Linked DNA regions of Homo sapiens: region 1 is linked to region 2. Evidence: fine-mapped expression QTL. A gene starts in region 2. The other region holds a variant in brackets. All regions are shown on one strand. Distances are between the middles of the regions.

Region 1 (5,468 bases), 150 kb before region 2:
CGCCGCCATGCCTGACTGGTTTTGGTGGAGACAGGGTTTCGCTGTGTTGGCCGGGCCAGTCTCCAGCCCCTAACCGCGAGTGATCCGCCAGCCTCGGCCTCCCGAGGTGCCGGGATGGCAGACGGAGTCTTGTTCACTCAGTGCTCAATGGTGCCCAGGCTGGAGTGCAGTGGCGTGATCTCGGCTCGCTACAACCTACACCTCCCAGCCGTCTGCCTTGGCCTCCCAAAGTGCCGAGATTGCAGCCTCTGCCCAGCCGCCACCCCGTCTGGGAAGTGAGGAGTGTCTCTGCCTGGCCGCCCATCGTCTGGGATGTGAGGAGCCCCTCTGCCTGGCTGCCCAGTCTGGAAAGTGAGGAGCGTCTCCGCCCGGCCGCCATCCCATCTAGGAAGTGAGGAGCGCCTCTTCCCGGCCGCCATCACATCTACGAAGTGAGGAGCGTCTCTGCCCGGCCGCCCATCGTCTGAGATGTGGGGAGCGCCTCTGCCCCGCCGCCCCATCTGGGATGTGAGGAGCGCCTCTGCCCGGCCACGACCCCATCTGGGAGGTGAGGAGCGTCTCTGCCCGGCCGCCCAGTCTGAGAAGTGAGGAGACCCTCTGCCTGGCAACCACCCCGTCTGAGAAGTGAGGAGACCCTCCGCCCGGCAGCTGCCCCGTCTGAGAAGTGAGGAGCCTCTCCGCCCAGCAGCCACCCCATCTGGGAAGTGAGGAGCGTCTCCGCCCGGCAGTCACCCCGTCCGGGAGGGAGGTGGGGGGGGGTCAGCCCCCCGCCCGGCCAGCCGCCCCATCCGGGAGGGAGGTGGGGGTTCAGCCCCCCGCCCGGCCAGCCGCCCCGTCCGGGAGGTGAGGGGCGCCTCTGCCCGGCCGCCCCTACTGGGAAGTGAAGAGCCCCTCTGCCCGGCCAGCCGCCCCGACCGTGAGGGAGGTGGGGGGGTCAGCCCCCTGCCCAGCCAGCCACCCCGTCTGGGAGGTGTGCCCAACAGCTCATTGAGAATGGGCCAGGATGACAATGGCGGCTTTGTGGAATAGAAAGGGGGGAAAGGTGGGGAAAAGATTGAGAAATCGGATGGTTGCCGTGTCTGTGTAGAAAGAAGTAGACATGGGAGACTTTTCATTTTGTTCTGCACTAAGAAAAATTCTTCTCCCTTGGGATCCTGTTGATCTGTGACCTTACCCCCAACCCTGTGCTCTCTGAAACATGTGCTGTGTCCACTCAGGGTTAAATGGATTAAGGGCGGTGCAAGATGTGCTTTGTTAAACAGATGCCTGAAGGCAGCATGCTCGTTAAGAGTCATCACCAATCCCTAATCTCAAGTAATCAGGGACACAAACACTGCAGAAGGCCGCAGGGTCCTCTGCCTAGGAAAACCAGAGACCTTTGTTCACTTGTTTATCTGCTGACCTTCCCTCCACTATTGTCCCATGACCCTGCCAAATCCCCCTCTGTGAGAAACACCCAATAATTATCAATAAAAAAATAAATTTAAAAAAAAAAAAAGAAAGTGGTGTAAGGAGTATGAATAATATATCAAGAAGTACAGAGCAGAATGTGATTAATTCTTCCTGGGAGAAGAGTTCCAGGGAGCCTCCAAAGGTGGCAGATCAACAGTGATAGATGGTGAGCTTGCAGTCAGCCATAAAAAGCAGAGGAGATCATGTGTAGGCAAAACAAGGAATATTTTAAACAGAAGCACAAAGACCTGAAAAACTAGGGCACGTCTGCTGAACCATAAACACGTCAGTAATGCCAGAGAATAGAAGTGCATGAGGTAGAGTGAGAGGAGGTGACATCAGAGGATTAGATTAGGGCCAGACTAAAAAGACGGGTCAAGTAAGGACTTCGCCATGAAGGTAATCCTAGGAGATGTTGAACAGGGCAGAAATATCATCCAATTTGTTTAAAAAAGAGAGCCATTACAACAATATGAACTCTTAGTGAAGATACTGGTGTCAAGATATCAAACAGGGATCTATT[C/T]CGACAGCCCAGGTACATAGTGATAAGGGCCTGATAACAGCAGTGGATCTCGACAGAAAAAAAAAAGGCAGATTTGGGAGTTAATTCATATATTATAGAAACAGCAGGATTTTCTGAGCACCTAAATATAAGGGGAAGAAAGCTGCTTCTCCAAGGTTTGAGGATTAGATGGTGAAGAATGCTTACAGAACCCAAAATGATTGGGTCCCAGGCTATCATTGACTTCACTTCACATACCATTACTGTCCAGCCATACTGGCCTTATTTTATTCTCTCAAATATATCAACTTTTTTTTCTCTCAAGGCTTCTGCAATAGTTGTTTTCTCTGCTTTGAATAAAAAAGTGATGAATTCATTTATATTATGGAGAGTTTTAATGTCAAAGAGATCTCTAGGTACAAAAGTCTACAGAGTAATTAGGCATGAAGAGAGCAGAGTCAACCCAGAATGAACTAAGAATCAGCAAACATAACCAACAGTCCTTGCCATGAGAGTGGATGAGATAACCTAAAAACCCAATAACAAAAAATTATCCCCTGTTCATGAACTGGAAGATTTAATATTGTTAATATACCAATACAACCCAAAGTGACTTACAGATTCAATGCAATCTCTATCAAAATCCCAATGGTGTGTTCTACAAAAACAGAAAAACTCCCCATCCTGATATTCATATGTATTCTCAAGGAAGTCTGGATAGCCAAAACAATAGCTGAAAAGAAAAAAGCTGGAGGCCTCACAATTCCAGATTTCAAAATTACAAATCTGCAAAAATGAAAAGTGCAGTACTGGTGTAAAAATAAACCAAAAGTAATTAGAAATGGGAAAAAATGGCCCAGAAATAAACCCACAAATATATGTTCAAACGATTTTTGAAAAGGGTACCAAAACCATTCAATGGGGAAAGGACATTTTCAACAAATGGTTCTGGGAGAAATTAGATATACATATGCAAAAGAATGAAGTTAGACCCTCACTTAACACCAAATACAAAAATTAAGTCAAAATAGATTAAGACCAAAATGTAAGAGCTAAAAGTAAAAAAATCTGAGAAGAAATCAGAGAGAAAACGCTCTGAAACACTGGATTTGGCAATGACTTCTTAGATACAATACCAAAGGCAGAAGCAAAAAAAAAAAAAAGTAGACAACTTGGGCATATTAACAATTTAAAATTTTTGTGCATCGAAAGATATTACACCAAGAGAGTCAAGAGGCAACCTACAGAAGAAGAGAAAATATTTGTAAACTGTACACCTGTTAAAAAGTTAATATCCTGGGCTGGGCACCATGGCCTGTTTGTAATCCCAGCACTTTGGGAGGCCAAGGTGGGGAAATCACTTGAGGCCAGGAGTTCGAGACCAACCTGACCATCATGGCAAAACCCTGTCTCTACTAAAAATACAAAAATGAGCCAGGAATGGCAATCCCAGATACTCAGGTGGCTGAGGCACGATAATCATTTAAACCCAGGAGGCGGAGGTTGCAGTGAGCTGAGATCGCACCACTGCACTCCAGCCTGCGTGACAGAGGGAGACACTGTCTCAAAAAAAAAAAAAAAAAAAGTTAATATCCTGAATATATAGAACTCCTAAAACTCAATCACAAAAAAGCAAACAATCAGATTCAGAAATGGGCAAAGGACACGAATAGACATTTCTATTAAAAAGACATACACAAATGGCCAACAAGCCCATGAAAATATGCTAATCCTAAGGAAATACAAATCAATACTATATTGGTATATATCACCTCCTCACACCAAGATGGCTAGTATATATATGTGTACATACACACATACAATTTTTTTTTTTTTTTTTGAGACAGAGTCTCGCTCTGTCGCCCAGGCTGGAGTGCAGTGGCAAGATCTCAGCTCCCTGCAACCTCCACCTCCCGGGTTCAAGTGATTCTCCTGCCTCAGCTTCCCAAGTAGCTGAGACTACAGGTGCGTGCCACCATGCTCAGCACAGTGGCTCGTGCCTGTAATCCCAGCACTTTGGTAGGCCAAGGCATGCAGATCACAAGGTCAGGAGTTCGAGACCATCCTGGCTAACCCAGTGAAAGCCTGTGTCTACTAAAAATACAAAAAATTAGCCGGGCATGGTGGCACGGGCCTGTAGTCCCAGATACTTGGGAGGCTGAGGCAGGAGAATCGCTTGAACTCAGGAGGCAGAGGTTGCAGTGAGCCGAGATCGCCCCACTGCACTTCAACTTGGGCAACACAGCAAGACTCCATCTCAAAAAAAAGGAAAAGTGTTGTAAAAGATGTGGAGAAAGTGGAACTCTTGCACACTGTTGGTAGGAATGTAAAATAGGTACAGCCATTGTGGAAAACAGTATGGCATTTTCACAAAAAATAGGAATAACCATACAGTTCTGCAATTCCACTTCCAAGTATCCACTCTAAATAAATGAAAACGAGGTCTTAAGGGAGTTCTTTGTACATCCACATTCATATCACTATTATTCATAACTGGTAAAACATGAAAGCCAACCAAGTATGCATCAGCAAATGAATAGATAAGCACAATATGGTACCATAGATAAAGTGAAACATTAGCCTTAAAAAGAAAGGGAATTCTGACATATCCTACAAAATGGATGGAACTTGAGGACAATATGCTAAGTGAAATAAGCCAGGCACAAACAACTACTGTATGATAACAGTTATATGATGTAGTTAAAGAATAGCCAAAGCCACAGACAGACAGGAGAATGGCTGTTGCCAGGGTGCAAAGGGAGGGGTCAAAGGGAAGTTATTGTTTAATGGGTATAGACTTTCAGTTTTACAAGATGAAAGAAAAGAGTTATAAAGATGGATCGTGTGATCACTGCATATTATCAATGTATACTTAAAATGTACACTTAAAAATGGGGTTAAGATTTTAAACTTTGTGCTATTTGCATTTTAACACAATTTTTTAAATTGGGAAAAAAAAGAGAAAGGTTCAGAGATAATAAAGTAAGTTGCCCAAGGTCACACATGATGGCTAATTCAAAATGTAAACCTCAAAATGCAGACACCAGTGAAATTATAAAACAAATATCTACTTATACAAAACTCAGGATAATTGTTACCACTAGGGAGAAAGAGGCAGCTGAGATAAAGGAGGAATACAGAGTGGCTTCAAAGATATTGATAATCGACTTAAGGTGAGTGGTGGTTGGTTGTGTTATGATTATCCTTTCAAACCAAACACGTTACAATATACTTTTATAAGCTTAAACATGTCATAATAAATTGTAAAACACAGGTGTTTCAACAAACAGTAAGCAGCAGAATTAGACAAGGTGAAGCAGAGCTACTCATGATACATAACTTCACAAGCTATATACAGTGTATGGCCTGTCGAGCTGTTGGTGACCAACCTAGTACTGAAGTAAGCACAGTTCAGGATATGACTGAAAGTCAATTAGTGATTACTAAAAAGATTATCAAGCAGCTAAGTTGTAGCTATATTATACCTAAATAGAGTTTAGACCAGCTGTATTAA
Region 2 (5,000 bases):
CTTTCTCATCGGTGAACAATTCCTAATTGAACAGAATCATGCAGGATAAAAACATTATGAAATCAGTACACACGTCACACTGGAATGGAATTTATCTTTACACTGCACCGCGGTGCCTGGATTGAAAATCACGAACTAGGTTTAAAGAACAGAGAAAATGACACTTGGCAGAAAACAAACAATGACCTGAAATGACTCTAGAAGGGAGATTGCTTTCCCTTCTCAAAGTAATCTATACAGACAAGAATCAAACTACAGACTGTGAAATAATCTGGGGACCTCACAGCAGTTAGCTTCTTACTTGCTCAAACATCCTACAATCTCTAAAAGTCAAACGCACGATGACACAAACATAAAAACACAACACATCTAACATCCAATCATTATTTATTGATTTACACAAATACAGTGGGTGTAGGGAGGAGGTGATGCATGATGAAATGTTATTCTCAGGTACGCAATACCTTTCTAAATCTCCGTGGAATACATGAATTCAACGTTTTACCTTCACCGGCTAGTTTTTGACTAAAATACCCCATCACCAAGTCTTTTCAATCAAAGCTCTCCAAAATTCTACAATCGAGCAAATAACATGAAATTAGAAACATTCAATACTAGACTTTCCTCCAGAAGCCCTGGTAACTCTCTAGACATCAGGCCTATGAGGAGTAAATTAAAGCCCATTAAAAATATTCAGCCTAACACAAATCTTCCAAGAAGTGAGACTTTTGTGGGTGATGGGTAATGTCGGTGAACTTCCTCTTCCTTTAAAAAGGTCAAAGACAGGGAAGCGTCCGGCGTCACATTTCCTCCTCAGATCTCTACCACAAACCACATCACAACTCTCCCATTACTAAAAAAAATTATCCAGAGGAACTGCTTTCTGTACATTTTCACCTTAGACTGAAAATCCAACATACCTCGGAAACGAGCTGATTGGTTTCAAACAAGAAATTTACCGATAAAGTTTATTATGTACTAATAATAATTATGGAAGCCCACTGTGTCCCGCTGTAGGGGGAGCCGAGGGGAGGTGAAGAGCAGGAGGGTGTAATCCTCACAACAACCAGAGAAAAGCCTTCCCTGCAGGGTTGGTCCCAGGCACCAAGCAAATTCTGCCCAATAAAGGGGGGGAGGGTACCTTAGGGGAGGAGGGGAGAAGGGACCCCAAGCTCTAAAAGGAAGGGGCTGCAGAAGCATGGCCAAGTGGGGCTAGCTTTCACAGTATTGCAGAGGGTCTGGGGGTCCCCCCGCAGTGCTGCTGCCGGGGCACCCCAAAAGCTCCGCCCAAGCCCGATGCAGGGGCTTGAGCCGCTGTCCCTTTCCTGGCTGGGCTGTGGCGGCCGGCAGGAGGGTCCCCTGGGCTGCGGGGTCCCCCTGGACTGCGACGACGAGAACCGAAGGGCCGACAGGAAGGTGAAAAGGATACTGTTGGGGCGCCTGAGTCTGGAGGGCCCTGATGTTCGGGTGAGGAGGGGGGACCGCTGCCGCCGCCGCCGCCGCCGCCGCCGCCGCCGCCGCTGCTGCCGCCGCCGGGTGAGGAGGCGGTACCGCTGCTGCCGCCGCCGCCGCCGCTCCGGTGCCGGGTCCGGTTCCTGCTGCAGTCGCTGTGCCTGATTTCAGAGCCGGTTTCTGCGGTAAACTCATGGCAAAGCGAAGCCACCAACCCCCCCAGAGCGGGACCGGGCGCGCCGGGGTGCAGGGGCCGGGGGCAGCGGGGGGGCGGGATGGGGGCAGACCCGGGGAGGCGGCGGGAGCGGGGGGCTGGGGGGAGCCTGGGGGGAGGAGGAGGAGGGGGCCGGGGCCGGTCACACACGCCCGACGCCGCCGCCGCCGCCGCCGCCGCCTCCGCCGCCGCCGCCGCCGGCAGCAGCAGCCGCCCCGCGGGCCAGCACCACCGGCTGCCGGTCTCCGTGACAACGCGACCCCAGGGGGGGGGCCGGACCCGGCGGGGGCAGGAGGCGGAGAGACCGGACCTTTCACGGCAATATCCTCATGGGCCGGCGGCGGGGGATCTTTATCCCCCTCCCCGGAGGAAGCGGCGCCCTTCTCGGTAGCGGGGCTCAGGCGATGCCGGTGGATTTTCTTCACTCAACGAGCAGAGCATCCAACATGGCGCTGTGGCCGCCTCCAGCAGTCCGGCAGGACGGCTGCTCGGAAAACTTCGGACTTTTTCGGAATGGCTCGGGAAACCGAGGGTGGGAAGCCTCTTCGGCTCTTTCCGGAGACTGCTAGGGGTCGGGATTCTTCGGAGACGCTCGGGTGCGTCCTCGGCCGCCGTTCGGGAGGGCTCAGGGGCTAACTCGCTTCCTCGGCAAAGATCGGCGAGGGAGGCTTCGCTGGCTTACAGCGGCGCGGGTGCGGGGCGGAGGGAAAGACCAAAGGCGAGGTCTGGCTTGCGAGAGTCCTCCCCTGCGGCCCAGCCTCGAAGAACAATGGTAATGGCCCCGGAGTCGGCTGTTCGCTGAGCCCCGCTCGCAGGGGCGGAGAGGCAGCGGCGAGGCGAAAAACCCCTGGAGAAGGAACCGCTTAACCGGAATGGAACCCGTTGGATAGGGACCCCCCGCGGGGACTTCGCGTAACCAATGCCACCCGCCGGCCTGTAACCCACGCATTTCACACCCATTGTGTCGACACTTCCTCAGACGCTCTGAGAGGTGAATGAGGAGCCCCATTTCCAGAGGACACAGAGGAAAAGTGACTAGCCCAAGGTCACCCTATCGGGAAAGGACAGAGCCTAAATCTAAATGCCACCTTCATCTGGATGAACCTTGCCGCCTCCCATATTGGCTGGGGACATGACCTGAGCCGCCATATCTAATCAGCAGCCTTAACTGAGCTCTGTGGATGGATTCAAACCTAGGCCTTCCCCAGGACTGGAGCGCCCTTTGACCAGCAGCCAGTGATCAGCTCCCCAATGTCCTATGCTGGGTGACATTTGTTGATAAGGATTTTCTTCCCAGCTAGACCTGCCAAGATCACTCCCACCCCCAACCCCGCACACCCCACTCCTTAGCAGGTGCCTTGTCCTAAGCACAGTGGCATTGAGTGGGAAAGAATGGCAGGCATCGGCCGGGCGCGGTGGCTCACGCCTGTAATCCCAGCACTTTGGGAGGCCAAGGCCGGTGGATCACTTGAGGTCAGGAGTTCAAGACCAGCCTTGCCAACATGATGAAACCTCGTCTCTACTAAAAATACAAAAATTAGCCAGGCGTGGTGGCAGGCACCAGCTACTCGGGAGGCTGAGGCGGGAGAATCACTTGAACCCAGGAGGCGGAGGTTGCAGTGAGCTGAGAGAGTGCCATTGCACACTAGCCTGGGCGCGACAGAGTGAGGCTTCGTCTCAAAAAAAAAAAAAAAATGGCAGGCGTCATGGAGCAATCAAGTTTTAATATAATATTTACCAGACATGGCACTAAGCGCTGTACCCTTCATTATCTCAAGCAGTCCTGTGAAATAGGTAGTATCCATTTTACAAATGAATAAACTGAGACTGGGGAGGCTCAATACCATCAAACCACAGAAAAGCTGAGAAAATTGAGGCTCAAAACGCACAAAAGACTTCCCCGAGGTCGCACCGACAGTGTGGCTGGCAGAGCTAAGATTAGAGTCTAGTTCTGACTCCTGCTATCCTGCTTCACACACTGCCTTACTATTTTGTTGTTGCTGTTTTTTGAGACGGAGTTTCGCTCTTGTTGCCCAGGCTGGAGTGCAATGGCACGATCTCGGCTCACGGAAACCTCCGCCTCCCATGTTCAAGCGATTCTCTTGCCTCAGCCTCCCGAGTAGCTGGGATTAGAGGCATGCGCTACCACGCCTGGCTAATTTTGTACTTTTAGTAGAGACGGTGATTCTCCATGTTGGTCAGTCTGGTCTCAAACTCCCAACCTCAGGTGATCTGCCTGCCTCGGCCTCCCAAAGTGCTGGGATTACAGGCGTGAGCCACCGCGCCTGGCCTATTGTTGTTTTTAATTCATATAAAGCTCTACACATAGTGGATGCTTAATTCGTGACAATCCCTGGGAGCCCCAAATGCTCCTTCTAGGATAAAAGAGCATCTGAAAGAGAGTGATACCACAACCCCCCTACGGCGTCTTTCTAGCTAGAGCTCCACAGTTTCTGACATTGAAAAGGATGCCTCATCCCCATCTCCAGACTGGAAGACAGCAGCTACTTCATACTGTGGCATCTTAAACTGTCTGGATTTGTAACACCTGATTTTTTTATTTATTTATTTTTTTTTTTGAGACAGTCTCGTTCTGTCGCCCAGGCTGGAGTGCAGTGGCGCAATCTTGGCTCGCTGCAAGTTCTGCCTCCTGGGTTCACGCCATTCTCCTGCCTCAGTCTCCCAAGTAGCTGGGACTACAGGCACCTGCCACCGTGCCCGGCTGATTTTTTTTCTCTTTTTGTATTTTTGGTAGAGATGGGGTTTCACTGTGTTGGCCAGGATGGCCTCGATCTCCTGACCTCGTGATCCGCCCGCCTTGGCCTCCCAAAGTGCTGGGATTACAGGCGTGAGCCACCATGCCCGGCCTGTAACACCTGATTATTTAGGATGGGATTTTCTGCTCCTCTCCACATATAATTGACTCCAGGAAGAATTCCCTAGTGGTCCTTCAGTTCCCCAGATTCTCCTTTCATTTTCTGGAATCTCAGGCATCCTTATCCCAATCAAAACCTGTTCCAAGGAAATTATTTGACTTCTCATTTACACTAGGGTGATAACAGGCCGATAATTGCCTAATTGTTATTCTTTTCTGAGCTAGCTTCATTTTCTAACTTAATAATAGCTACAAGCATCAGACAATTACTGTGTGCCAGTCTTAGCTAAGCACTTTATGAAACTTATCTGTTTTAAAATGGATAGACCTTGGGCAAAATAATGTAAAAGTCCCTGATAAGATTCTGGCCACAGGCAATCAATGGAGGAAGTTTGTAGGGAACAAAGTCAAAAAGGTAGAGCTCTGTTCTTTCAGCCCAAAGAATGGCCTTGCTCAAGT

The links.
Region 1: its variant is fine-mapped to the expression of EIF4G3 in whole blood (TOPMed, PIP 0.97).

The regions. Positions count from the first base shown.
Region 1 is chr1:21,023,417-21,028,884 of GRCh38, forward strand. The region is part of intron 4 of EIF4G3 (eukaryotic translation initiation factor 4 gamma 3); the gene reads right to left. Among named protein-coding and RNA genes, the nearest start is that of MIR1256, 38 kb to the left of the region's middle. The variant C/T (reference allele first, on the strand shown) is at 1,976.
Region 2 is chr1:21,174,746-21,179,745 of GRCh38, forward strand. EIF4G3 (eukaryotic translation initiation factor 4 gamma 3) reads right to left here and starts at 2,152. Exons shown (of 37, transcript NM_001391906.1): 1 at 1,977-2,152; 2 at 1,430-1,613. RefSeq lists an enhancer at 2,067-2,116.